Homo sapiens: one gene and its partners. The protein of the gene in region 4 interacts with the protein of the main gene of each other region in a biochemical or structural test. Each region holds a gene or a part of one and is shown on either strand. Other genes may lie near its edges.

Region 1 (3,500 bases), on a different chromosome or scaffold from region 4:
GTGGGAGAGTAAAGTAGTTCAATCAAAACTACATCTTTGAGCCTGGGCAACATAGGGAGATCCCATCTCTACAAAAAATTTTAAAATCAGCTGGGCATGGTGGTGCTCACATGTAGTCCCAGCTACTCAGCAGCCTGAGGCAGGAGGATCATTTGAGGCCAGGAATTTGAGGTGGCAGTGAGCTATGATTGTGCCACTGTCAGCCAACAAAGCAAGACCCAGTCTCTAAAAAAAAATATATATATATATATAAAGTCAGCCCTCTGAAACTGTGGACTCTGCATCCATAGGTTCAACCAATCATGAATCAAAAACAATCAAAAGTAAATAAATAATAACAAAATAAAAACTACAAATTAAAAAAACACCATGTAACAACCATTGACATGGTATTTACATTGTATATATATTATTAGTAATCCAGAGATAATTTAAAATATACAGGAGGATGTGTGAAGGTTACAAGGGACTTGAGTATCCTCAGACTTTGTTATTTGAGGGTGTCCCAGAACCAATCCTCCAAGCGTACTGAGGGATGACTGTATATTCTATATGATTTCATTTATATGAAATTCAAGAACAGACAAAACTAATCAATAATGATAGATATCAAAAAAGTTGTTGCTCCTAGGTGGTAGAGTATAGACTCGGGAGAGGCATGAGAAAACTTATGGAGCATTGAAGGGGTTTTATATACTGATCTACATGGTCGTTACAGGGGTATAAATAAATGTAAAAAAAATCATCAAACTGTACAATTAAGACGAATGCACTGGGCCAGGCGTGGTGGCTCACGCCTGTAATCCCAGCACTTTGGGAAGCCGAGGCGGGCAGATCACAAGGTCAGGAGATCGAGACCAGCCCGGCCAACATGGTGAAACCTCGTCTCTACTAAAAATACAAAAATTAGCTGGGGAGTGGTGGCACGAGCCTGTACTCCCAGCTACTCAGGAGGCTGAGGCAGGAGAATGGCTTGAATCGGGGAAGCGGAGGTTGCAGTGAGCTGAGATAGCGCCACTGCACACCAGCCTAGCGAAAGAGCAAGACTCCGTCTCAAAAAAATATGAGTGCACTGCCAGGCATGGTGGTAGGCACCTGCAGTCCCAGCTACTTGGGAGGCTTAGGTGGGGTATCACCCAAACCCAAGAGGGTGAAAGCGGCCTAGGCAACAAAGCAAGATCCTATCTCTAAAAAAGAAAATTAAAATTAAAAATGATGTTTTATCCTTAAGAGGGAGTTTCACTGCGTCGCCCAGGCTGGCACTAAGTGGTGCAATCTCAGCTCAAAGCAACCTCTATCTCCCGTGTTCAAGCAATTCTCCCACCTCGGACTCTGGAATAGCTGGGACTACAGGCATGTGCCACCACTCCCAGCTAATTTCTGTATTTTTAGTAGAGACGGGGTTTCATCATGTTGGCCAGGCTGGTCTCAAACTCCTGACCTCTAGTGATCCTCACTGATCTTTAAAAGATCAATGCACTTTACATACATGCATATACATGTATGCTAGGACTCAATTTTTGAAAAATGAACAAAACCATGCACAAGTAAAAGAATAACACACCAAAACAATTAGATACCCTAAATTAACATGCTAAAATTTTTTTTTTTTTTTTTTTTGAGATGGAGTCTCGCTCTGTCGCCCAGGCTGGAGTGCAGTGGCGCCATCTCAGCTCACTGCAAGCTCTGCCTCCCGGGTTCAAGCAATTCTCCCGCCTCACCCTCCTGCATAGCTGGGATTATAGGCACATGCCACCACGCCTGGCTAATTTTTGTATTTTTAGAAGAGACGGGGTTTCGCCATGTTGGTCAGGATGGTCTTGATCTCCTGACCTTGTGATCTGCCCACCTCGGCCTCCCAAAGCGCTGGGATTACAGGCGTAAGCTACCACGCCCAGCTGCTAAAAAATTTTTAAATTAAAAATAATTAGTGGAGCCACAGCTGACACTTGCTTCTTAAATCTTCTGTATTATACTGAATTCTGTACTGAATTTTTTACCATGACCATATTACTTTTATTACTTTAAAAAAAAAAAAAAAAAAAAAAAAAGCTGGGCCAGGGGCAGTAGCTCATGACTGTAATCCCAGCATTTTGGAAGGCTGAGGCAGGCAGATCACTTGAGGCTTAGGCCAGGAGTTCCTGACCAGGCTCTACTAAAAATACAAAGAAAATAAGCTGGGCATGGTGGCGCATGCCTGTAATCCCAGCTACTTGGGAGGCTGAGGCATGAGGAGCGCCTGAACCCAGGAGGCAGAGGTTACACTGAGCCAAGATCATGCCACTGCATTCCTGTCTGGGTGACAGAGCAAGACTGCCTCAAGAAAAAAAAAAAAAGTTATTTCATTAAAATGACAATATTAAAATGAAATCTGGCCAGGCGCAGTGGCTCAAGCCTGTAATCCCAACGCTTTGTGAGGCCAAGGCAGGTAGATCATGACGTCAGGAGCTTGAGACCAGCCTGGCCAATATGGCGAAACCCTGTCTCAGTGAGCCAAGACCAGGCCACTGCAGTCCAGCCTGGGCAACAGAGCAAGACTCCATCTCGAAAAAACAAAACAAAACAAAACAAAAACAAAAAAACTAAGCACTACTGTACCTAAATCTTACAGTTCTCATCACACTGTCCTGCAATGGTCTTTTCACAAAGCAATCTCTTCTACTTTAATTATCTTACTCTTCTAGCATCCAACACACACCCTGGCACTAGCTATCTGCAGCACTAGGTATTTGCTTCGTGTCCATTTACTGTATTCTACTGTAGAGGTAGTAAGCAAAAATGTTTGTTGAATAAACAAATGTGTAAAAAAATAAGAAATGAAAATTAGGTAATCCATGAGAAGTATTCCAAAGTCATGGGCTTATGAGCTTGAATTTATACTACAGGGAAGTATAAATTCAAGGGTTGAGGCTTACTGAATAAGGATATAAACTTGTATCATTACATTCCAAAACTGTCTCACCAAGCTGGGCACGGTGGCTCACGCCTGTAATCCCAACACTTTGGGAGGCTAAGGCAGGCAGATCATTTGAGGCCAGGAGTTCGTAACCAGCCTGACCAAGATGGTGAAACCCCATCTCTACTAAAAATACAAAAATTAGCCAGGCGTGGTGGCACATGCCTGTAGTCCCAGCTACTTGGGAGGCTGAGCCAGGAGAATCGCTTGAACCTGGGAGGTGGCAGGTGCAGTGAGCCATGATTGCGCCAGTGCACTCCAGCCTGGGCGACAGAGCAAGATGCCATCTCAAAAAAAAAAGTAGAAGCAAAGTATACCCAGATATCCTTTAGCCTGTGAATAAACTGTTAATCCACACAATGGAATACTTGTTACCAATAAAAAGGAAAGCACAGCCAGGCACGGTGGCTCATGCCTATAATCCCAGCACTTTGGGATGCCAAGGCGGGTGGATCACCTGAGGTCAGGAGCTCGAGACCAGCCTGACCAAAGTGGAGAAACCCCGTCTCTACTTAAAATACAAAATTAGCCTGGCATGGTGGCA
Region 2 (3,500 bases), on a different chromosome or scaffold from region 4:
AACCTAGAATGCTGGTCTACCTCCCTGTCTTTTAATTAAAAGGCTTCAGAATTGTAAAAAGAGAATAAGAATCCCTTCACGAAGAACCACACCTACAGTTTTCCCATCAGGAAGGTGCTCTAGGGGCAAAACAAATGACATGTGGTGTCTTACCCTGCTTGGACCCATAGGTCTATACTTTGTCCTAGGAAAGAAGCCAAGGCTCTTTCTTTAGCGATGTAAACACCTGGTACCAGACTCAACATACTCTCGCCCACCCAAACCCCTGCAACACTGCAGGGAATGGGCTGAGGACAATGGGGCACATGAGTGTGGAGATAGGCTCAAGGACCGGGCCATCTAGAAGCTGAGGCAAAAATCCCTCCTCTAGTTGGTCTAAGCGGGGTGTTCAGAGACTGTGTGTGCCAACACAGTCCACTTCAGCACCAGAGAAAAATGAACGCAAGCATTGTGTTTTTATTACAGGTGCCATCAAGCATTTCCACTTCTGAAATGGACACCGGTAATAAGTCTTCTAAAAGTTCACGCTACAAGGGTTTAGAAAAACAGAGCTCCTCTCTAGATTAAGGAGAGGAAACAAACAAACAAACAAACAAAAAAGAACTTTTGGTAAGACCCTCAAAAATAAATTTGTACGCCAAGCTGAGGTGCTGGCTTGGAAGGCTGCCTTGCAAACAAGGTGCATTATCTACACGTGAAACGCCCAAAGGTTCTCAAAGGACCACCAGCAGCAATGTCCGGGAACTTGTTAGAAAAGTGAATTATTGGGCGCCAGCCACCTGTGTTTTAACAAGCTTTCCAGGAGATCCTAACACACATGGAAGTTTGGGACCGCTGCTCTCAGGATGAGAGGTTAAGATGCTTGAGGAAGGCCTGACCCTGTTACCTTAATGTCAGTTTTGAGCTTCTCATAGTTGACATCGATGGGATCCTTGCTGCTATCATCAGACCCTCCCCTGAGCAGACTGTAGGCCACCTCGATGTCCAGCAGGTTGTCAAGCATTTCCACCTTGGCCTGGAGGAGCAAAAGAAAGCCCCCGACTTAGGTATCATGGTGAATGAGACAGACTCACCCAGGTGGCAGAGAAAACCTACATGCAGAGAAGGTCCAACACAGTGAATGGCAAACCCTCCTGCTGGTCAGGGCCAGCCTGTTACCTGCTGCACATATTGAGAGCTCATAAGGACTTTCTGGAATGTTAACAAGGCCTTGTGGCCTGGGGGAGTTGAGAGGTGGAAGAACTGTCTTTCCTCTCGTACATGCTGACATTTGGGACCTACAGTGAAGGTACTTTAGACAAATGGGTCCTGAGCCAGGAGCTGTCTTAAAAGGCAGGGAGGGAAAATGGGGAGGAAGATGCTGTTATGAGGGAGAGGCTGTCCCTCTCCAACAGCTCTTTCCCCAGTGGATTTGGTAGAACAGGGGCAGGAAAAACAGCTCTGCCTCCATCAATGTGGGTAGAAACCCAACTTCAAAACAAGGGCAAGAGGGTGGCCCTCCCAGCATTGGTGCTGCCCTCAGGGATCATGATGGGGAGGGACGGCTGCAAGGTAGTCACACCCCAGCCCAGCAGACCTGCAGTCCCTTCTGAACCCTTGCGCTACCTGCACACTGTCTGCATTGTTCAGGAGCGGAGGCTTCTTCATCCCAAAGTCGTGGGGGATCAGGGTGTAAAAGCGATTTGAGAGATCCAGGATCTGAGAGTCGCTGCTGCCCTGAGACACCGCCTGGAGAGGAGGGGACAGAAGGAATGCAAGACTGAGGGAGCAGCTCCAAGCCCCCGGCCAGGCTTTCTCTTTTAGCAGGTGGGTGCTGCAGCAGGTCCAGAAGTAGCGTGGTATGTGCACATGCCAGGACACATGGGAAACGACCAGAAGACCATCTTCCTGTTAAAGAGCAGGGCAGGACCCCCATCCTCTAAAAGCACTGCTCAACACGTGATGGGCTTCTCCCATGAAGTTTCATTTGTACAAAGAACTGTGCAGTTACAGACATTTGAAACCCCGCCACAACTATGCAAAATGTTAACTGTAAAATCTAGGTGGTGGGCTAATGACTATTGCTGTAAAATTCCTTCAACTTTTTGTATGTTTGAAACATTTTCATAATAAAATGTTGGGAGGAGGTTGCCCATCGCTATAAAATTCAGTCAGGCTCCCTGCCTCCACTGACCTTCATTGGAATTAGTTTTTACTGTACCTGGAGGTTGAGGTGGCCAGGCACAGAAAGGCTAAGCAATCCTTACACTCACTGCCAGTGTCACTTGGTGCTCTATATGCAAAGGGTGCACAAAAAATGCACAGAGATGGAAGAGCGGGGCCACTGGGATTCCAGGAATTTCGCAGACAGCCTAGGTGACCACAGGAAGGTCAAGGGAATATGAAGTGGCACCCAGCAGGTCCGAAGCCCCACGCCTGCTTCTCGCTGTGACATGGACTTCACCAAGTTGTACAACTTCCATCTGTGCTGCCCAGGTGGCTCTGGCAATGGGTAAGGATGCTATTCCAGCTCTTCTTCCTGAAGACTATTGCATGGGAAGAAGCTGGGGCCGAGGAAAGCCTTGTAAGTTCTCAGTCAGTAAGGAACAAGGAGAGAGGTTCACTGCTCAGAGCCAGCTGTAACTGAAGTTGACAGATCCGGTTCAGCGCCTTTTCTCCAGCACCAGCCAGAAAGCCCGCTGCCTGGGCCCACTTCTGCTTCCTGTGTGCTTTCCTTCTTTCTACAGGCCAGGCCTGCACCCACCCACAAATATAAGCGGAACCCTCCAGCCCCTCCAGGATGTAGCTGGAAGGCTCCGGGACTGGTAGACCTTGAAAGATGCTCAAAGAATGTTGAAATAACATGAATGAAAGAGGCTTCCATTTGATGACTTCCTAGTAACTGCAAAATAAACTCTGCCTAACTCTTAAGGACACATAAAATAAAAACCACAACACAGGTGACCCTTGAACAATCGATTTGAAGTATGCGGGTCCACTTATACACAGATGTTTTCAATAAATACAGTTAGCTCTCTACACCTGTGGGCTCTGCAGTTGAGAATTCAACCAAACTCAGATAAAAAATATAGTATTCTCAGGCCAGGTGTGGTGGCTCATGCCTGTAATCCCAGCACTTTGGGAGGCTGAGGCAGGCGGATCACTTGAACCCAGGAGTTTGAGACCAGTCTGGCCAACATAGTGAAACCCCACCTCTACTAAAAATACAAAAAAATTAGCCGGGTGTGGTGGCCCATGCTTGCAACCCCAGCTACTTGGGAGTCTGAGGCACGAGAACCGCTTGAACCTGGGGATGGAGGTTGCAGTGAGCTGAGATTGTGACACTGCACTCCAGCCTGGGGGACAGAGCAAGACTCTGTCTCAAAAAAGAAAAAGAAAGAAAAATCCCACCAAAAAAAAAAAAAAAAAATCTCAGGATGCGAGACCCACAGATGTGCAGGGCCAACTTTTCTCCTCCATGGGTTCTGCAGGGCACTCTAGGACTTGAGCATGAGTGAATT
Region 3 (3,500 bases), on a different chromosome or scaffold from region 4:
TGGCAGCTGTTACTATGTTATTACATAGAATAATCCTCACTCGGCCAAGGTTGGGGGATTGCTTGAGTCCAGGAGTTTGAGACCAGCCTGAGCAACCAAGTGAGATGCTGTCTCCACAAAAAATAAAAATGTAAAAATTAGCAGGGTGTGGTGGCATGTACCTGTAGTCCCAGCCACTCAGGAGGTGGAGGCAGGAGGATTGCTTGAGTCCAGGAGGTTGAGGCTGCAGTGAGCCATGTTCGTGCCACTGCACTCCAGCCTGTGCGACAGAGTGAGACCCTGTCTAAGAAATCATCATCATCATCATCATCTTCCTTACTTTACAGACGAGGAAACTCAAAGTGGCACTTAATTTGCCAAAGATCACAAAGATCTAGTAATGGCAGAACTGGAATGCACATCTAATTCTACTTCCAACTTCATTCCTCCTTCCACTTTTCCTTAGCCAAGAATGTAAATCAGGAACATTTTGGTGCTTCTGCCAGCGACATTTACCATTATCATGAGCTCTTACATGGTTTCTCGGGTGCACTCAGATTTTCAACGTCTACTTTTGTATTTGCAGAACATCATCAAGAAGGTGATCGGGCAGAAGTTTGTGTACAAGTTTGTCTCTTTCCCGGAGATCCTGAAGATGGATCCTCACGCGGTGGAGATCAGCCGGGAGAGCCTTCTGCTGCAGGACAGCGACTGCAAGGCGTCTCCGGAGGGCCGCGAGGCCCACAAACACGGCCTGGCCGCCCTCAGAAGCACGAGCCGCAACGAATACATCCACTCAGGCCTGTACTCGTCCTTCACCATTAATTCCCTGCAGAACCCACCAGACGCCTTCAAGGCCATCAAGACGGAGAAGCTGGAGGAGCCGCCCGAAGACAGCCCCCCCGTGGAAGAAGTCAGGACTGTGATCAGGTTTGTGACCAATAAAACCGACAAGCACGTCACCAGGCCGGTGGTGTCCCTGCCTTCCACGTCAGAGGCTGCGGCGGCGTCCGCCTTCCTGGCCTCGTCCGTCTCGGCCAAGATCTCCTCTTTAATGTTGCCAAACGCTGCCAGTATTTCATCCGCCTCACCCTTCTCATCTCGGTCCCCGTCCCTGTCCCCCAACTCACCCCTCCCTTCTGAACACAGAAGCCTCTTCCTGGAGGCCGCCTGCCATGACTCCGATTCCCTGGAGCCCTTGAACCTGTCATCGGGCTCCAAGACCAAGTCTCCATCTCTTCCCCCAAAGGCCAAAAAACCCAAAGGCTTGGAAATCTCAGCGCCCCCGCTGGTGCTCTCCGGCACCGACATCGGCTCCATCGCCCTCAACAGCCCAGCCCTCCCCTCGGGATCCCTCACCCCAGCCTTCTTCACCGCACAGGTAAGAGTCATTCCTGTCATCTAAGCCACAGCCAGCTTCAGTGGCTTAGCAAAAAAGGAAGAGCAACTAAAGAGACTTCCTTCTGTCCCTCAAAACGTTGTCCTATGACTCGTACCGAGGTCACTGTGTAAATGTGAAGGGAAGCTGCTTTTCCATCCTCAGACCAAGGGGTGCACATGAGACAGGGTTTGGTTTGTCGACTCTAGTGGGATGCTTGATTGGTTTCTTGCTTTTAGCGGCCTAAAGTGACCATAGGTGGAACACGCACACTGGCCGACAAAGCAGATCTCACCAGCGATTTCCAAGGGAAAGTTGAGCGGGCCAGTTTACATTTCGGGAGGCGCTTGGGCTTTATGAAATTTTTATGGCAGAATCTTCTCTGGGGGCGCTTAATAAGGAGCCACTTGTGTTCTGTTAACAAGAAAATAGATGTCAACTGATGCCGCCATCGCATGTCAGTGTGGAGCTGTGGTCATAGCGTAGGTAATAAGAAACAAAGGGGCCACCCCAAACAGCTGCTTCGCTGAAAGCAGCACTACTCTGAGAAAGCCCCAGTCCACAGCACTGGCGAGAGGACAGCAAACTTGCAGAGCCAAAAAAGCCTTCGTTGTTATTAGTCCCAAAGAGAAAGCAGCCTTTTCCTTTAAATCAGATATTCAGATGCTCTTTCTTGTCCAGCTGACAATTGCAGTGCAAAGGCGTAGTAGGTGCTGGGAAACCATATTTCTCCTTCCCCTTGAAAATTGGATGCAATTTTAGTGGCAGAGGTTAAAAGAGTATTCGTTTTAGGTTCACAGACCTGCATTCAGTTCCTGGCTACCCTGCTTCCTAGGAGTGGGACTGTGGGCGGTTGCTCTCTGGGCCAGGTTCCATGTGTGGAAAATGGGACCATGGACAGGCTTTGTGAGCTGGGGACACCTGGTAGCATTGTTAACCGTGGAGCTGCACCCGTCCCCTGCCTCTGTAATCTCATCGTAGTTGTCCCTGTTGTCATTAGCAGCAGCCGCGGCAGCATATGACGGGCTCCCCACGTGTGCCAGGCACTGCTCCAGATGCTTTACATGCATTGCCTGTATCCACACTTACAGCAGCCCTGTCACGTGGATACAGGTTGAGCATCCTGTTTCCAAAATGCTTGTGACCAGAAGCATTTCAGAGTTCAGATGTTTTCAGATTTTGGAATATTTGCATGATACTTGCCAGTTGAATATCCCACATCTGAAAATCTGAAATCCAAAATGTTGCAATGAGCATTTCCTTGGAGTGTCATGTCAGGACTCAGAAAGTTTCAGATTCTGGAGGATTTGGGATTTGGGAATTTTTGGATTTGGGATGCTGAGCCTGTGCTATTATTATCATCCTGTTTCCCAGCTGAGATAAATGAGGCACAGAGGTAAAGTAGTTCGTCCAGGGTCCCACAGCCAATAGGTGGTAGAGGTGGCTTTGGATCCAGTGTCTGCCTCCAGAATCCATGCTCTCAAATGAAATGCATTCCCGCTGCGAGAAGGCAGTGTCCCTGATCACGATGGCCGTCCATGGAGCACCTGAAAGCAGCTCTGGGCCACTGTCCTCTCCACGCTTTCTCTGGACTGGATTCTGCCCAGGATTTCATGACAGCTCAAGCCTGTGAGCTGGTGGTGACGCGCGCCACTGCGGAGGGGGAGGGCCAGGGGATCAGGATATAGGTCAGAGTGAGCACGTGTGCTCTTAAATCAGGCATCTTCCAGTTAAGCAAGGCTGTCCAGTGACCAAGGGCTGCTGAGCAAATGGCTCAGAAACAGCAGCTCCTGATGTAGCTCAGGGGAGTATCTTGAGAGGCAGGGCCAGGGTAGATGATCTGAGCATCTCCTCCCCTGGCCTCCTGTGTGTTTACAACTGTCAGGGTGAGAAAGGTCCGAAGCCAGGCCAGGGCTGACTCTGATTTAGGTGTCTGTGTTCCCTGGGAGCCTGGATCACCTTCTCAGAACAGAGTGAGGCAGATGCCAGCCCTGTCTCAGAGGAAGTCAGCTCAGCCAGCCCTGTGGATAATGTGGATGGAGTGGTGGCTCCCATCGGTGGGGCTGAGGGCGTGAGAGAAGGATCAAGGGTGGATGCCCAACAAATGGATGCAGAGGGCACGACCAGGAGCCAGAAGCCACCA
Region 4 (3,500 bases):
AGCACCAAACAAGGCAAAACGAGCAGAAAGAGGTACAAAAGACCTAGATGGAAACTTTAGCCCGGACTAGCAAGTGCCATAGGGGAGGATATCTCCACCTATGCTCAGAACTTAACAGCTCAAACTAAACATCTTCCATAACAAAGCCACTTGTTTCAGATGTTATGTGACACTGTGTGTGACACACAGAGAAACCTAGTATTTATCTGCTTTTGTTAAAGGTCCCTCTGCCTCTCTGTGTAAGTTGCTCAGATCTGTATTCTCATCTTTATCTCTTGTTCCTACCTTCAACTGCAAAAAAATTCAACGAAAAGTTTTGTTGAAGTGTAGAGATGGATGGGCTCTTTCCTATTCTTCCAGAAGCTAAGAGTTTCCATTCCTGTCCTAAAGTTCCATTAGGAATAGGGATGGCACCTGCCTCTTAAAAATATACACTACAAGGCAGTGTAACAGCACTGACCATTTAGGAGCAACCAGAATGTTGCAATGCATTTACAGACAAGGTTCAGCAACCAGAGTAACTTGTACACAGCTGAAGCCAGAAGTTTCCCCAGAGGACTAAAGTGTGTAGCTTAGGAATGGCATGTGAAGGCCACCAGTGCTCTCGGAACCCCCTCCACCTTTCTTAAGCTAGCAGCAGGAGCTCAAGGAGGGCTCAACACTTACCAAGCCACTGTGATCCTAGGGTCCAGATAATTGAGTTTGGAGGTTCCCAGGGCAATCTGTTTATTTTCCTCTCGGTCTGTGGCTTGAACTTCCAGCTTCATCAACTGTTCCTCCAGTCTCTGAACAGCCTTCTTCTTTGACTCTACTACCCTAGAAGAATAGCAAAGTCCTCAAGAACCAGGCCTGGGCTCTAGACAAGAGCACACTGTACCCATCCTGCCACTTTGAGTCAATAAAAGCCCTAGTATAGAGATTTCCAAAAGACATTTCTCAGAAACCATCGAAAAGCCAGGGCCCCAGGGGCCCTGACAGATGCTGCACACTTTTCTCTACCAGCCCCAACTTTCACAATACCAGGTACATACTTCTTCGTCTTTGCATCCTTCATGACCTTGGCATCAGCCTTAGCACTTTTCAGGTCTCTCCGGGCATCTGCTAGCTGTTCCTTCTTGGCATCAATCTAGGGGAAATAATAGTGGTAAGGTTATGAGCTGTAGAGGAAAAATGGCTCCACCTGAGAAGGTGAAACCAAGATGTTATCTGGACCAGGCTGTCTCTGTCAGTGGTTTGTCAGATAAAAAAAAACAAGGGTGGCTTCATGAAGGCAGGGAGAAGATGCACAAGGACTAGTGAATTCAACTATTTGTTCTTCAGTGATCTGGAAAGAAACAAGGGTTTTACAGGGCAGTAACCTAGGGGCTCAGGGAAAGGAACCCGCTGGGGCTGGGAATCTGGGTGCTGATCTTTCCATCAGAGAACACTCTGCTGTCATACATCTGGGAGGATGGCTACAAATGACAGCTGTTTATCAAATAGATCCTGTGCCAGTTCTTAGCTTTCATTCTAAGAACACTGTAGGAGCTCCTCTTTAGGAAACTGAAGCAGGATACTTGCATCTACTGGGCAACCCCAGCTCGTTCCTCAGATCCCACCAGTACTCTGGGAAGGCGGTGCCAGCTTCTCAAGGAAAATGGATGCACTGAAGAGAGTACTCAAGGGGCTACAAACTGGCAATTAAAAGACACCCAGGAAGCCAAACAGCTCAGCCAGTCTGTCCCAAACCAGGACATGGCAGGGCTTAGCTTTGGCATTCTGTTTTTAAAAGGAGAGCGGTCACCAGGCGCGGTGTCTCACGCCTGTAATCCCAGCACTTTGGGGAGGCTGAGGAGGGCGGATCACAAGGTCAGGAGATCAAGACCATCCTGGCTAACACGGTGAAACCCCGTCTCTACTAAAAATACAAAAAATTAGCCAGGCGTGGTGGTGGGTGCCTGTAGTCCCAGCTACTCGGGAGGCTGAGGCAGTAGAATGGCATGAACCCGGGAGGCAGAGCTTGCAGTGAGCCGAGATCATGCCCCTGCACTCCAGCCTGGGCAACAGAGCGAGACTCCGTCTCAAAAAAAAAGGAGAGAAGTCTGAGGTGGGAAGGACCTTAGTTGTCACTCAATGGATGTGAAAACACTTTTAGCTGTGGAGCTTTTTTCCCCATGTGAACTCTCATGGAATCCATATCTATAAGGGAAGAGACAAGGGCAGTTTCAGCCTTTCTTGCTTGTTAGAATCTTTGAAGCACCCCTGGTGAATCTAAGTTCTTCTCAGATTCCTGCTTAGAGACAGCAGTGGATAACAACATGGAGCTAGAGCCCCTGTCACTGAGCTCACGCTACTCAGAGGGCAGGAGAACCCCATACCTATGGTCATCTATGTGAGGTGAAGACAACCTCTACGGAGTAAATAACATGTCTGACACACACTGGGCTGCTCACTGAACCTGGAATTGTTTGTTGTTAGATACACACAGCCCAAGATTGGAAACAGAGGCCACCATTGTGAGAGGATCACTAAATATGTTTTACTATGAATGGCTTACTTCCAACATCTATGTTGTCCAAAGCCAAACTGAGGGGACTGATTCTATATACAAAAGCATCACAGACACCACTAGCCAGATTCTTTTTAGGATAGAAATGTAGCAAACCATGATCTTTTAACCATTTCTGTGAATGCTAAATTGGCAGGCTATGTCAAATTCTCTCAAAGCATCAAAGACTCCATTGATTCACTTGGCAAACAGGGGCGTGTGTTTGCTTTGTGGGCACACAGGAGAGGAATCCTGGGTTTGGAGGGCTCATCTGGCAGGCAGCCTGGGCTGCCCAAACCCGGTTCCAGAGCGAGAGCAACAAAAGACCTCCTCATGCTCCTGGGAGGGGTTTTCCTGAATTAGGTAAACAGCACCTGAATATTCATGCTTTTATTTCTGGCTTGTAATGATAACATGAGGAGAATAAACAATTCCAGATGACCAGCATTTAACAGAGTGGCAGCAAATGTGAGCTGCTAGGATGGGCCGTCTATAGAGTTCTTTGCCTGCCAATCATATGATCCAAGGAATCAAAGGTCTATGGATGTATACTCATTCACTGTGGACATGTACGTCTCTTCAAGAAAGCCAGATGGCATCTGTAGCATAAATTATAAGTTGTGTGTACCTTTTGAACCAGCTATATTACTCATGGGTACTTATCTTAAGGAAATCTCAACAAATGGAAAATATTCTGGGCCTTAAAATGCAGTCTCATTCCACAGTAGTAGTTCTTAAACTCCAGTTGTACAAGTATAGAATTCCATGAACTTGGATGAGAAAAAATCTATAATTTCAATAACCTCTTTTTGGAACTTATTTATATTTATTTTTAAATTTTTAATACAGACAGGGTCTCACTATGTTGCCCAGGTTGGTCTTGAATTACTCAGCTCAAGTGATTCTCCCACCTCAACCTCCCAAAATGCTGAGATTACAGGTGTGAGCCACTGCACCCAGCTTCTAGCTGAAA
Region 5 (3,500 bases), on a different chromosome or scaffold from region 4:
AGCATGGGCTCTGGCTCTCTGTGAGGCTGTGGCTGGACCAGGCACACCACAAGCAGCTTACACGCTGGCACCGGGGAACACGGTGGTGCCCAGAAGCTTGGAGATGCCAGGAACCGCGGGGCCCCAAAGAGGGAGTCACAGCCCTAGCTTGGGGAGCTCCCAAGTCTGGGCTCCCCGAAGGGCCGCAGCTTTTCTTTACTTATCTTCACTTGCAATGCGGCAAGCAAGGGGCATGTCTCAGCCCTGTTTGTGTTACAGCTCTTTTAGCCTCACCATTCAGTGGGATCCCAAGTTCTTGTCCTACAACCAGGAAGAATGTGGTACGCTGACAGGTGGAAGGTGAGCAAGACAAACAGGAGCTTTATTGAGCGATAAAATAGCTCAATAAACCTGCGGGGGGCAGCTCCTTTCCACAGCTCAGGAGAGGGTAGCTCCTCTCTGCTAGGCAAGTCCTCCTGACAAGTGTTCAGCTATCAGCAGAGAGGGTAGCTCCTCTCTGCAGCTGGTCCTCCTGTCATCTGCACAGCTCTCAGCAAAGAGGGGGCACTAGAGTGGGTTGCTCCTCTCTGCAGCTGGTTGTCCCAGTGTCTGCTCAGCACTGGCTAAGCCCGAGGCTTTTATGGGCTTCAGAAGGGAGGAAGTACATGCCAACTGGTCCATGGGCAGACATGGGCAAGCCTGGAAAAGGCACTATAAGTTCCCACTCCAGTCCATTCAGTCCACACCAGCAGCCCAGCCCCCAGTCTTCAGGCCCTTTGTGGCCTGAAGGTGGGGCCTCATTGGTGACCCGCCCCCTTCCACCCAGGAACCTGTCTGCCTCCTGCTGCCATGAATGGCACCCAGGCTGTAGGTGCCAAGGGGAGCCTGCAGGCCAGTATCAAACTGCCCTCAGCACCCCCTTGGCTTCCCTCCTATGCTCATCAGCACCCAAAGTCCGGAGGGGGCCGAGGCGGCAGGGGGCTGGCATGTCAGCACTGCCCCAAGCATGTGCACATCTGGCCGGGCTGCAACAGCACCCAGGCTCAGCCCCAGCTTTGCTCTAAGATCAGAGTGGGTGCCAACAGTAGGGAGAAGTCAGGCAGCGGGAGCAGGCACTTCCAAGCCTACAAGGGCAGGGGGTCCTTCCAGGTCCCCCAAGAGTACAGGGATGCCTGAGTCTGCAGCCACCGCTTGGGCAGCTACAGCTGCACCAGGGGGAAGGGGTCCTGCCTGCTCTGTGGAGCCGGAGGCCCGAGCCTGCAGCTGTGGTTTGGGCGGCTACAGCTACACCCAGGAGGGCAGGGCTCTGGCCTGCTCCATGGAGCGGGTTCCCAGGTCCACAGCTGTGGCTTGGGCGGCTACAGCAGGAACCAGGAGCTCCTGCCCCAATTCAGAAGGGGTAGGGTTCCTGCTTGTCCCCAGCTACCGCCAGCTCCACAGAGCATGCAGCCCCAGCTGCGCCTCCCTGCTGCAGCCAGCATGATGGCAGCAGCCACTCCAGGCAGCCCGCCGCTGCCATCAAAAAGAAGTGTCAGAGCACAGCTTCAGCTCTTGAGACTATTTTGGCAAATTCTTAACAATCAAATAAAACATTTCATTTAATATGCATTCTCTCTGGAACTCAAAAGCCAAGATTAATAAAATTAGTAATAAAGTACACATATAGACATAAGCTATGGAGTCATAATCTTGCAAAGACTAAAAGTATCCTAAATACAAGTTTTAACTAATTTCATCATGTTCTCTGCAAAATCAAAAGGCAGAACACAAACATAAAGAAAAGTACTCATTAATATTTTCTGAAAACAAAGGGAATCTTAAAGGAAATTCTTTAAAACAACTTAGGAAATAGTCTAGTCCAGTTCCTATTTACAAGAAAAAAACCTATGCCTAAGACTTTGATAAAATAGGTATTTTCCTAATCACTGTTTTTTAATCACAGCCCTATTCCCTGTGCTATGAAGCCCTACGTCTTCTAACAATTATTTCCTCACTACCCTTAGCTGACAAATGGATGGCTGGGAACTGACTGGCAGGGTAAAGGGCACTTCCTTACCACCTGTAAGTTTAGAATTAGGAAAACATGTAACTGTATCTTTTAAATCTCTAGAGAAACCTTTAATAAAATGTTCAAGAGAGCTGGATTCCTCTGTTATTTCTAAGTTGCAATTTTCTTGAATTTTAGGATTTAAACATATTCTGATCTGCACAAAACTGGATACATGCCTCTTTGCATTTTTCTCAAGAGATGTGTTTTACCTGTAAGGTTTTATCAGCTCCACAAGAAGCTATTCTCTGACCATCCTCAGAAAAGCAGGCATGGTAAACAGCATCTGTGTGGGGGCGGACAACTAAGCGGGAAAGATTCGTGATGTTTTTTTTGTTTCTAAATACAGGGAAAAAATGAACAGAAATTAAATAAATGAGAGTAAAAGTAACTATTTTCTTTCAGTACTAAAATAAACTGTCTTTTAACATGGTTATGTTCCCCAAAATACAAAATTCTTAAAATCAGATTACTAACATGCAAATGACAGCACAGATCACCAAAAGAAAAAAAATAACAAAAGTAGCATTTGTAAGAGAAATGTTACCCTTTATCAAGCAACCTGTCACGTGTTACAAATGTCACTGAGTTGGAAGAAATCTAATTAATCAAATTAATCAAATCTAGTTAATCAACATGTCACTTTCCATTTTCCTTTGATACATTAATAATGATACATGTGCAGATAAATCATTATATAAGGATACCTTCAAAAATTCTCCATCTCTTTTTTAAAATAAAAATCATAGCAAAATGCTCATTTCCTAACTGAAGGAAACACCCACCATTATTATGATGTACTTTAAAGCTGCTCTTCTCAGCCAGGCGCAGTGGCTCATGCCTGTAATCCTAGCACTTTGGGAGGCCAAGGTGGGTGGATCACCTGAGGTCAGGAGTTCAAGACCAGCCTGGCCAACATGGCGAAACACCGTCTCTACTAAAGATAAAAATTAGCTGGGTGTGGTGGCACGTGCCTGTAATCCCAGCTACTTGGGAGGCTGAGGCAGGAGAATCGCTTGAACCTGGGAGATGGAGGTTGCAGTGAGCCAAGATCGCGCCACTGCACTCCAGCCTGGGCGACAGAGCAAGACTCCATTTCAAAAAAAAAAAAAACTGCTTCTCTCAAACTACAATTATTCAGACATACCAAAAAGATAAAGCAACATCATATTCTTTGTATCTCAATCTAATGAATATCAACTATTCCACCAGTATAGATATTATATTACTGCTCATAGTATCTAAAGTATAAAGGGGCCAGGCATGGTGGTTCACACCTGTAATCCCAGGACTTTGGGAGGACGAGGCGGGCAGATCACTTGAGGTCAGGAGTTCGAGATGAGCTTGGCCAACATGGTGAAACCCCATCTCTACTAAAAATACAAAAATTAGCAGGCATGGTGGCACACACCTGTAATCCTAGCTACTCGGGAGGCTGAGGCATGAGAATCGCTTGAACCCTGGAGGTGGAGGT
Region 6 (3,500 bases), on a different chromosome or scaffold from region 4:
GAGGTTGCAGTGAACCAAGATCACACCATCGCGCTCCAGCCTGGGAACAAGAGCAAAACTCCGTCTCAAAAAAAAAAAAAAAAATTATTTTTTAGCCAAAGCAGTGGCTCACACCTGTAATCCCAGTGCTTTGGGAGGCCAAGTTGGGAGGATCACCTGAACCCACAAGTTCAAGACCAGCCTGAGCAACACAGCAGACCCCATCTCTACTAAACAGAAAAAAATCAGCCGAGCATAGTGGTGCATGTCTATAGTCCCAGCTACTTGGGAGGCTAAGGTGGGAGGACTGTTTGAGCCCAGAAGCTGGAGGCTGCAGTGAGCTATGATCGAGCCACTGAACTCCAGTGTGGGTGACAGAGTGAGACCCTGTCTCTAAAAAAAAAAAAAAAAATTTAATTTTTAAAAAGTCTAAGAGTCCAAGGGGTCAATACTAGACACACATGGCTATTTAAATCTATATCCAAATTCAGCTGAATTCAACATTCAACTCCTCGGTCACACTGTCCACATCTGTAGTCCGTACTGGCACATGAGTGCCTAGTATTGGACAGCACACATCCAAACCATCCCGCTTACTACAGGATACTCTACTGCAGAGCACAAGACCACAGAAAAACTGTTAAACCTAATAAGGCTTCAGGAAGAAACAGTTCAAACCAGATAAAAGTAAACATGCCAGCTACTCGGGAGGCTGAGGCAGGAGAATCACTTGAACCCAGGAAGCGGAGCTTGCAGTGAGCTGACACTGTGCCACTGCACTCCAGCCTGGGCGACAGAGCGAGACTCCGTCTCAAAAAAAAAAAAAAAGAAAAGAAAAATCACCCAACTTTATGTCCTTAGAAAGACCAATCTCCTCAGTAAATTCCTTTATCACTTGACAAACTGATTCTCAAGATCATCAGGCACCGTTAGCCCAGGGCTGGCAAACTATGGCCCTTAGAGTGAATCTGGCCCACCACTTGTTTTTGTAAATTAAGTTTTTTTTTTTTCTGAGACGGAGTTTCACTCTTGTTGACCAGGCTGGCCTGCACTGGCACTACCTCAGCTCACTGCAACCTCCTCCTCCCAGATTCAAGCGATTCTCCTGCCTCAGCCTCCTACGTAGCTGGGATTACAGGTGCTCACCACCATGCCCAGCTAATTTTTTTATTTTTTATTTTTTTGAGACGGTCTCACTCTATCGCCCAGGCTGGAGTGCAGTGACGCGATCTCGGCTCGCTGCAACCTCTGCTGCCCAGGTTCAAGCAATTCTCCTGCCTCAGCCTCCCAAGCAGCTGGGATTACAGGCGCTCGCCACCACGCCCGGCTAATTTTTGTATATTTAGTAGAGATGGGGTTTCACCATCTTGGCCAGGCTGGTCTTGAACTCCTGACCTCATGATCCACCTGCCTCGGCCTCCCAAAGTGCTGGGATTACAGGCGTGAGCCACTGCGCCCAGCCACTTTTTGTATTTTTAGTAGAGACGGAGTATCACCATGTTGGCCAGGCTGGTCTTGAACTCCTGACCTGAGGTGATACTCCTGCCTCGGCCTCCGAAAGTGCCAGGATTACAGGTGTAATCCACTGCACCTGGCCAATAAAGTTTTATTAGAACACAGCTCTTCTTGCTCAGTTACATGTTGTTGATTTATGGCTTTTTGTGCTGCTACGGCAGAATTAAGTAGCTGCAACTGAGACAGTATGGCCTGCCAAAAATATTTACTATCTGACCCTTCACATGAATTTGCTGGCACCTGTGTCTTTTATCTGTTTTGGTTTTGTTTTACACACAGTCAAGGTCTCACTATGTTGCCCACACTGGTACCAAACTCTTGGCTTCAAAAGATCTTCCCGCCTTAGGCCAGGGACGGTAGCTCACACCTGTAATCCCAGTACTTTGGGAGGCCGGGGATAGCCTGAGGTCAGGAGTTTGAGACCAGCCCGGCCAAAATGGCGAAACCCCGTCTCTAAAAATACAAAAATTAGCCGGGTGTGGTGGTGCACACCTGTAATCCCAGCCACTCGGGAGGCTGAGGCAAGAGAACTGCCGGGAACCCAGGAGGCAGAGCTTTGCAGCGAGCCAAGATCATGCCACTGCACTTCAGCCTGGGCAACAGAGCGAGACTCTGTCTCAAAAAATAATAAAACAAAACACAGAATATAAGTTCCATAAGGAAGGAGATGTTTTTCTGTCATATGCACCTCCTGTAGCCAGGACTGTATTTCAGTGAGTATCTGTAGGGTGGACAGATGGGTGGATGTGGGTGACTGATTCTAGAAGAGTAATAAATGTGTCAGACCAGCTGAGAAAGTCTTTTTTTTTTTTTGAGACAGAATTTTACTCTTTTTGCCCAGGCTGGAGTGCAGCAGCACGATCTCAGCTCACTGCAACCTCCACCTCCCAGGTTCAAGCAATTCTCCTGCCTCAACCTCCCGAGTAGCTGGGATTACAGGCACCTGCCACCACGCCTGGCTAATTTTGTATTTTTAGTAGAGACAAGGTTTCACTATGTTTGCCAGGCTGCTCTCAAACTCCTGACCTCAGGTGATCCGCCTGCCTCAGCCTCCCAAAGTGCTGGGATTACAGGGGTGAGCCACTGCGCCCACTCTTTTTTTTTTTTTCTAGGTGGAGTCTCGCTGTGTTGCCCAAGCTGGAGCCCAGTCGTGCGATCTCAGATCACCACAACCTCTGCCACCCAGGTTTAAGCGGTTCTCCTGCCTCAGCCTCTCAAGCAGCAGGTGCAAGCCACCATGCCTGGGTACTTTTTGTATTTTTAATACAGACAGAGTTTCACTATGTTGGCCAAGTTGATCTCGAACTCCTGACCTCAGGTGATCTGCCCGCCTTGGCCTCCCAAAATGCTGGGATTACAGGCGTGAGCCACTGTGCCCAGCTTTTTTTTTTTTTTTTTTTAGGGACAGAGTCTCACTCTATCGCCCAGGATGGAGTGCAGTGGTAGGATCATGGCTCACTGCAGCGGCAACCTCCCAGGCTCAGGTGATCCTCCTACCCGAGCCTCCTGAGTAGCAGGGACCACAGGCACACACCACCATGTCCAAGTAATGAGGTCTCGCTATATTGGCCAGACTGGTCTCGAACTCCTGGGGTCAAGTGATCCTCCCACCTCAGCCTCCCAAAGTGCTGGGATTACAGATGTGAGCCACTGCACTCAGCCTGAAAAGTCTTCACAAAGAATAAAGTTGGGAAGAATTTGGTGAGCAGTTCTCAAAACATACCACAAAGCAGCAATCATCAAACAATGTGTTATGGGAACAAGGACTCACAAAGCAGTCAATGAAATGTGAGACCCCAGAACACACTGTTCTTTTTTTTTTTTTTCCAAGACAGAGTCTCGCTTTGTCACCCAGGCTGAAGTGCAGTGGCACAATCCTGGCTCACTGCAACCTCCGCCTCCCAGGTTCAAACGATTATCCTGCCTCAGCCTCCCCAGTAGCTGGGGTTACAGGCGCTCGCCACCACGCCCGGCTAATTTTTGTGGTTTTTCTTTTTTCTTCTTTT
Region 7 (3,074 bases), 4.1 Mb from region 4:
AGAGCTACTGTTATACAGTAAATTCAGTTGTTTTGGTTTGGATTGGTTTGGTTTGTTTTTTTTTTTTTTTTTTTTTTTTATTGTTCTGCAACCTGCTATTTTAATTCAACTCTACCTCATGGACATCTTTTCACAGATTTAGACTCTTAGTTCACAGGGTAGGAAAGCACAAAGGCCATAGGACTCTTGCATAATGGGAAGCTTATTTTTCTTTTTTTTTTTTTTTCCATTTTTTTTCTTTTTTATTGATCATTCTTGGGTGTTTCTCGCAGAGGGGGATTTGGCAGGGTCACAGGACAATAGTGGAGGGAAGGTCAGCAGATAAGTGAACAAAGGTCTCTGGTTTTCCTAGGCAGAGGACCCTGCAGCCTTCCGCAGTGTTTGTGTCCCTGGGTACTTGAGATTAGGGAGTGGTGATGACTCTTAACGAGCATGCTGCCTTCAAGCATCTGTTTAACAAAGCACATCTTGCACCACCCTTAATCCATTCAACCCTGAGTGGACATAGCACATGTTTCAGAGAGCACAGGGTTGGGGGTAAGGTCACAGATCAACAGGATCCCAAGGCAGAAGAATTTTTCTTAGTACAGAACAAAATGAAAAGTCTCCCATGTCTACCTCTTTCTACACAGACATGGCAACCATCCGATTTCTCAATCTTTTCCCCACCTTTCCCCCCTTTCTATTCCACAAAACCGCCATTGTCATCATGGCCGGTTCTCAATGAGCTGTTGAGTACACCTCCCAGACGGGGTGGTGGCCGGGCAGAGGGGCTCCTCACTTCCCAGTAGGGGCGGCCGGGCAGGGGCGGCCGGGCAGAGGCGCCCCTCACCTCCCGGACGGGGCGGCTGGCCGGGCGGGGGGCTGACCCCCCCGCCTCCCTCCGGGACAGGGCGACTGGCCAGGCGGGGGGCTGACCTCCCCGCCTCCCTCCCGGATGGGGCGGCTGGCCGGGTGGGGGGCTGACCCCCCCCACCTCCCTCCCGGATGGGGCGGCTGGCCAGGCAGAGGGGCTCCTCTCTTCCCAGTAGGGGCGGCCGGGCAGAGGCGCCCCTCACCTCCCGGATGGGGCGGCTGGCCGGGCGGGGGGCTGACCCCCCCACCTCCCTCCTGGACGGGGCGGCTGGCCGGGCAGAGGGGCTCCTCACGTCCCAGTAGGGGCGGCCAGGCAGAGGCGCCCCTCACCTCCCGGACGGGGCGGCTGGCCGGGCGGGGGGCTGACCCCCCCGCCTCCCTCCTGGACGGGGCGGCTGGCCGGGCGGGGGGCTGACCTCCCCGCCTCCCTCCCGGACGGGGCGGCTGGCCGGGCAGAGGGGCTCCTCTCTTCCCAGTAGGGGCGGCCGGGCAGAGGCGCCCCTCACCTCCCGGATGTGGCGGCTGGCCGGGCCCGGGGCTGACCCCCCCACATCCTTCCTGGACGGGGCGGCTGGCCGGGCAGAGGGGCTCCTCACTTCCCAGTAGGGGCGGCCGGGCAGAGGCGCCCCTCACCTCCCGGACGGGGCGGCTGGCCGGGCGGGGGGGCTGACCCCCCCCACCTCCCTCCCGGACGGGCAGCTGGCTGGGCAGAGGGATGACCCCCCCACCTCCCTCCTGGATGGGGCGGCTGGCCGGGCGGGGGGCTAACCCCCCCACCTCCCTTCTGGACGGGGCGGCTGGCCGGGTGGGGGGCTGACCCCCACCTCCCTCCCAGACGGGGTGGCTGCCAGGCGAAGACGCTCCTCACTTCCCAGACGGAGTGGCTGCCGGGCGGAGGGGCTCCTCACTTCTCAGAGGGTGTGGCTGCTGGGCGGAGGGGCTCCTCACTTCTCAGACGGGGCGGTTGCCAGGCAGAGGGTCTCCTCACTTCTCAGACGGGGCGGCCGGGCAGAGACGCTCCTCACATCCCAGACGGGGCAGCAGGGCAGAGGCGCTCCCCACATTGCAGAAGATGGGCGGCCTGGCAGAGACGCTCCTCACTTCCTAGATGGGATGGCGGCCGGGCAGAGACACTCCTCACTTTCCAGACTGGGCAGCCAGGCAGAGAGGCTCCTCACATCCCAGACGATGGGCGGCCAGGCAGAGACGCTCCTCACTTCCCAGACGGGGTGGCGGCCGGGCAGAGTCTGCAATCTCGGCACTTTGCGGGGCCAAGGCAGGCAGCTGGGAAGTGGAGGTTGTAGCGAGCCGAGATCACGCCACTGCACTCCAGCCTGGGCACCATTGAGCACTGAGTAAACGCGACTCCGTCTGCCATCCCGGCACCTCGGGAGGCCGAGGCTGGCGGATCACTCGCGGTTAGGAGCTGGAGACCGGCCCGGCCAACACAGCGAAACCCCATCTCCACCAAAAAAATACGAAAACCAGTCAGGCGTGGCGGCGCGTGCCTGCAATCGCAGGCACTCGGCAGGCTGAGGCAGGAGAATCAGGCAGGGAGGTTGCAGTGAGCCGAGATGGCAGCAGTACAGTCCAGCTTTGGCTCGGCATCAGGGGGAGACCGTGGAAAGAGAGGGAGAGGGAGACCGTGGGGAGAGGGAGAGGGAGAGGAGGGAGAGGGAGAGGAGGGAGGGAGAGGAGGGAGAGGGAGAGGAGGGAGACGGGAAGCTTATTTTTCTATTCTTGGTTTGGTTTTTGAGACAAGGTCTCACTCTGTTTCCCAGGCATGATCACTGCTCACTGCAGCTTCAACCTCCCCAGGCTCAGGTGATGCTCCTTAACCTCCCGAGTAGCTGAGACTACAGGCACAAGCCACCACACCTGGCTAATTTTTGTATTTTTTGTAGAGACCAGGTTTGCCATGTTGCCCAGGCTGGTCTGAAACTCCTGGGCTCAAGTGATTGAACCATCTTGGCCTCCCAAAGTGCTGGTATTACAGGCCACCACACCTGGCCTTAAATCTAATTTTTAAACCACCTGAAAAGATTAGTTCAAGCCATCCCTTATTAGGTTGTTCTAAGTTTTAAAAAGAGTCCTTATCCCAGTGTTAAGATTTGGATAGAGGATAGAGCACAGGAAAAAACAATTAGCTTGGTTGTTTGCTGCCATTTCCCCTCTCCCTCTTTTACTCACACACGTTCTCTATTTCTGCACAGAGTTTG

What was found.
Region 1: of the proteins of TOP1 (region 4) and SRPK2, one has a biochemical effect on the other in vitro, tested with the Homo sapiens proteins (one large-scale study listed by BioGRID).
Region 2: the proteins of TOP1 (region 4) and PARP1 form a complex in vitro, tested with the Homo sapiens proteins (one study listed by BioGRID).
Region 3: the proteins of TOP1 (region 4) and ELK3 interact in a test that uses a peptide from one of them, tested with the Homo sapiens proteins (one study listed by BioGRID).
Region 5: the proteins of TOP1 (region 4) and APAF1 interact in a test that uses a peptide from one of them, tested with the Homo sapiens proteins (one study listed by BioGRID).
Region 6: the proteins of TOP1 (region 4) and BTBD2 form a complex in vitro, tested with the Homo sapiens proteins (one study listed by BioGRID).
Region 7: the proteins of TOP1 (region 4) and RBL1 interact in a test that uses a peptide from one of them, tested with the Homo sapiens proteins (one study listed by BioGRID).

Annotation. Positions count from the first base shown.
Region 1 is NC_000007.14:105,378,922-105,382,421, forward strand, and holds part of SRPK2 (SRSF protein kinase 2), read right to left. Parts: intron 1-3,500. UniProt on the Homo sapiens protein: Serine/arginine-rich protein-specific kinase which specifically phosphorylates its substrates at serine residues located in regions rich in arginine/serine dipeptides, known as RS domains and is involved in the phosphorylation of SR splicing factors and the regulation of splicing.
Region 2 is NC_000001.11:226,366,594-226,370,093, forward strand, and holds part of PARP1 (poly [ADP-ribose] polymerase 1), read right to left. Parts: intron 1,729-3,500; coding exon 1,606-1,728; intron 1,016-1,605; coding exon 887-1,015; intron 1-886. UniProt on the Homo sapiens protein: Poly-ADP-ribosyltransferase that mediates poly-ADP-ribosylation of proteins and plays a key role in DNA repair.
Region 3 is NC_000012.12:96,246,375-96,249,874, forward strand, and holds part of ELK3 (ETS domain-containing protein Elk-3), read left to right. Parts: intron 1-565; coding exon 566-1,360; intron 1,361-3,500. UniProt on the Homo sapiens protein: May be a negative regulator of transcription, but can activate transcription when coexpressed with Ras, Src or Mos. Forms a ternary complex with the serum response factor and the ETS and SRF motifs of the Fos serum response element.
Region 4 is NC_000020.11:41,119,322-41,122,821, reverse strand, and holds part of TOP1 (DNA topoisomerase 1), read right to left. Parts: intron 1,127-3,500; coding exon 1,032-1,126; intron 817-1,031; coding exon 667-816; intron 1-666. UniProt on the Homo sapiens protein: Releases the supercoiling and torsional tension of DNA introduced during the DNA replication and transcription by transiently cleaving and rejoining one strand of the DNA duplex.
Region 5 is NC_000012.12:98,676,290-98,679,789, reverse strand, and holds part of APAF1 (apoptotic protease-activating factor 1), read right to left. Parts: intron 2,366-3,500; coding exon 2,239-2,365; intron 1-2,238. UniProt on the Homo sapiens protein: Oligomeric Apaf-1 mediates the cytochrome c-dependent autocatalytic activation of pro-caspase-9 (Apaf-3), leading to the activation of caspase-3 and apoptosis. This activation requires ATP. Isoform 6 is less effective in inducing apoptosis.
Region 6 is NC_000019.10:2,005,715-2,009,214, forward strand, and holds part of BTBD2 (BTB/POZ domain-containing protein 2), read right to left. Parts: intron 1-3,500.
Region 7 is NC_000020.11:36,998,924-37,001,997, reverse strand, and holds part of RBL1 (retinoblastoma-like protein 1), read left to right. Parts: intron 1-3,068; coding exon 3,069-3,074. UniProt on the Homo sapiens protein: Key regulator of entry into cell division. Directly involved in heterochromatin formation by maintaining overall chromatin structure and, in particular, that of constitutive heterochromatin by stabilizing histone methylation.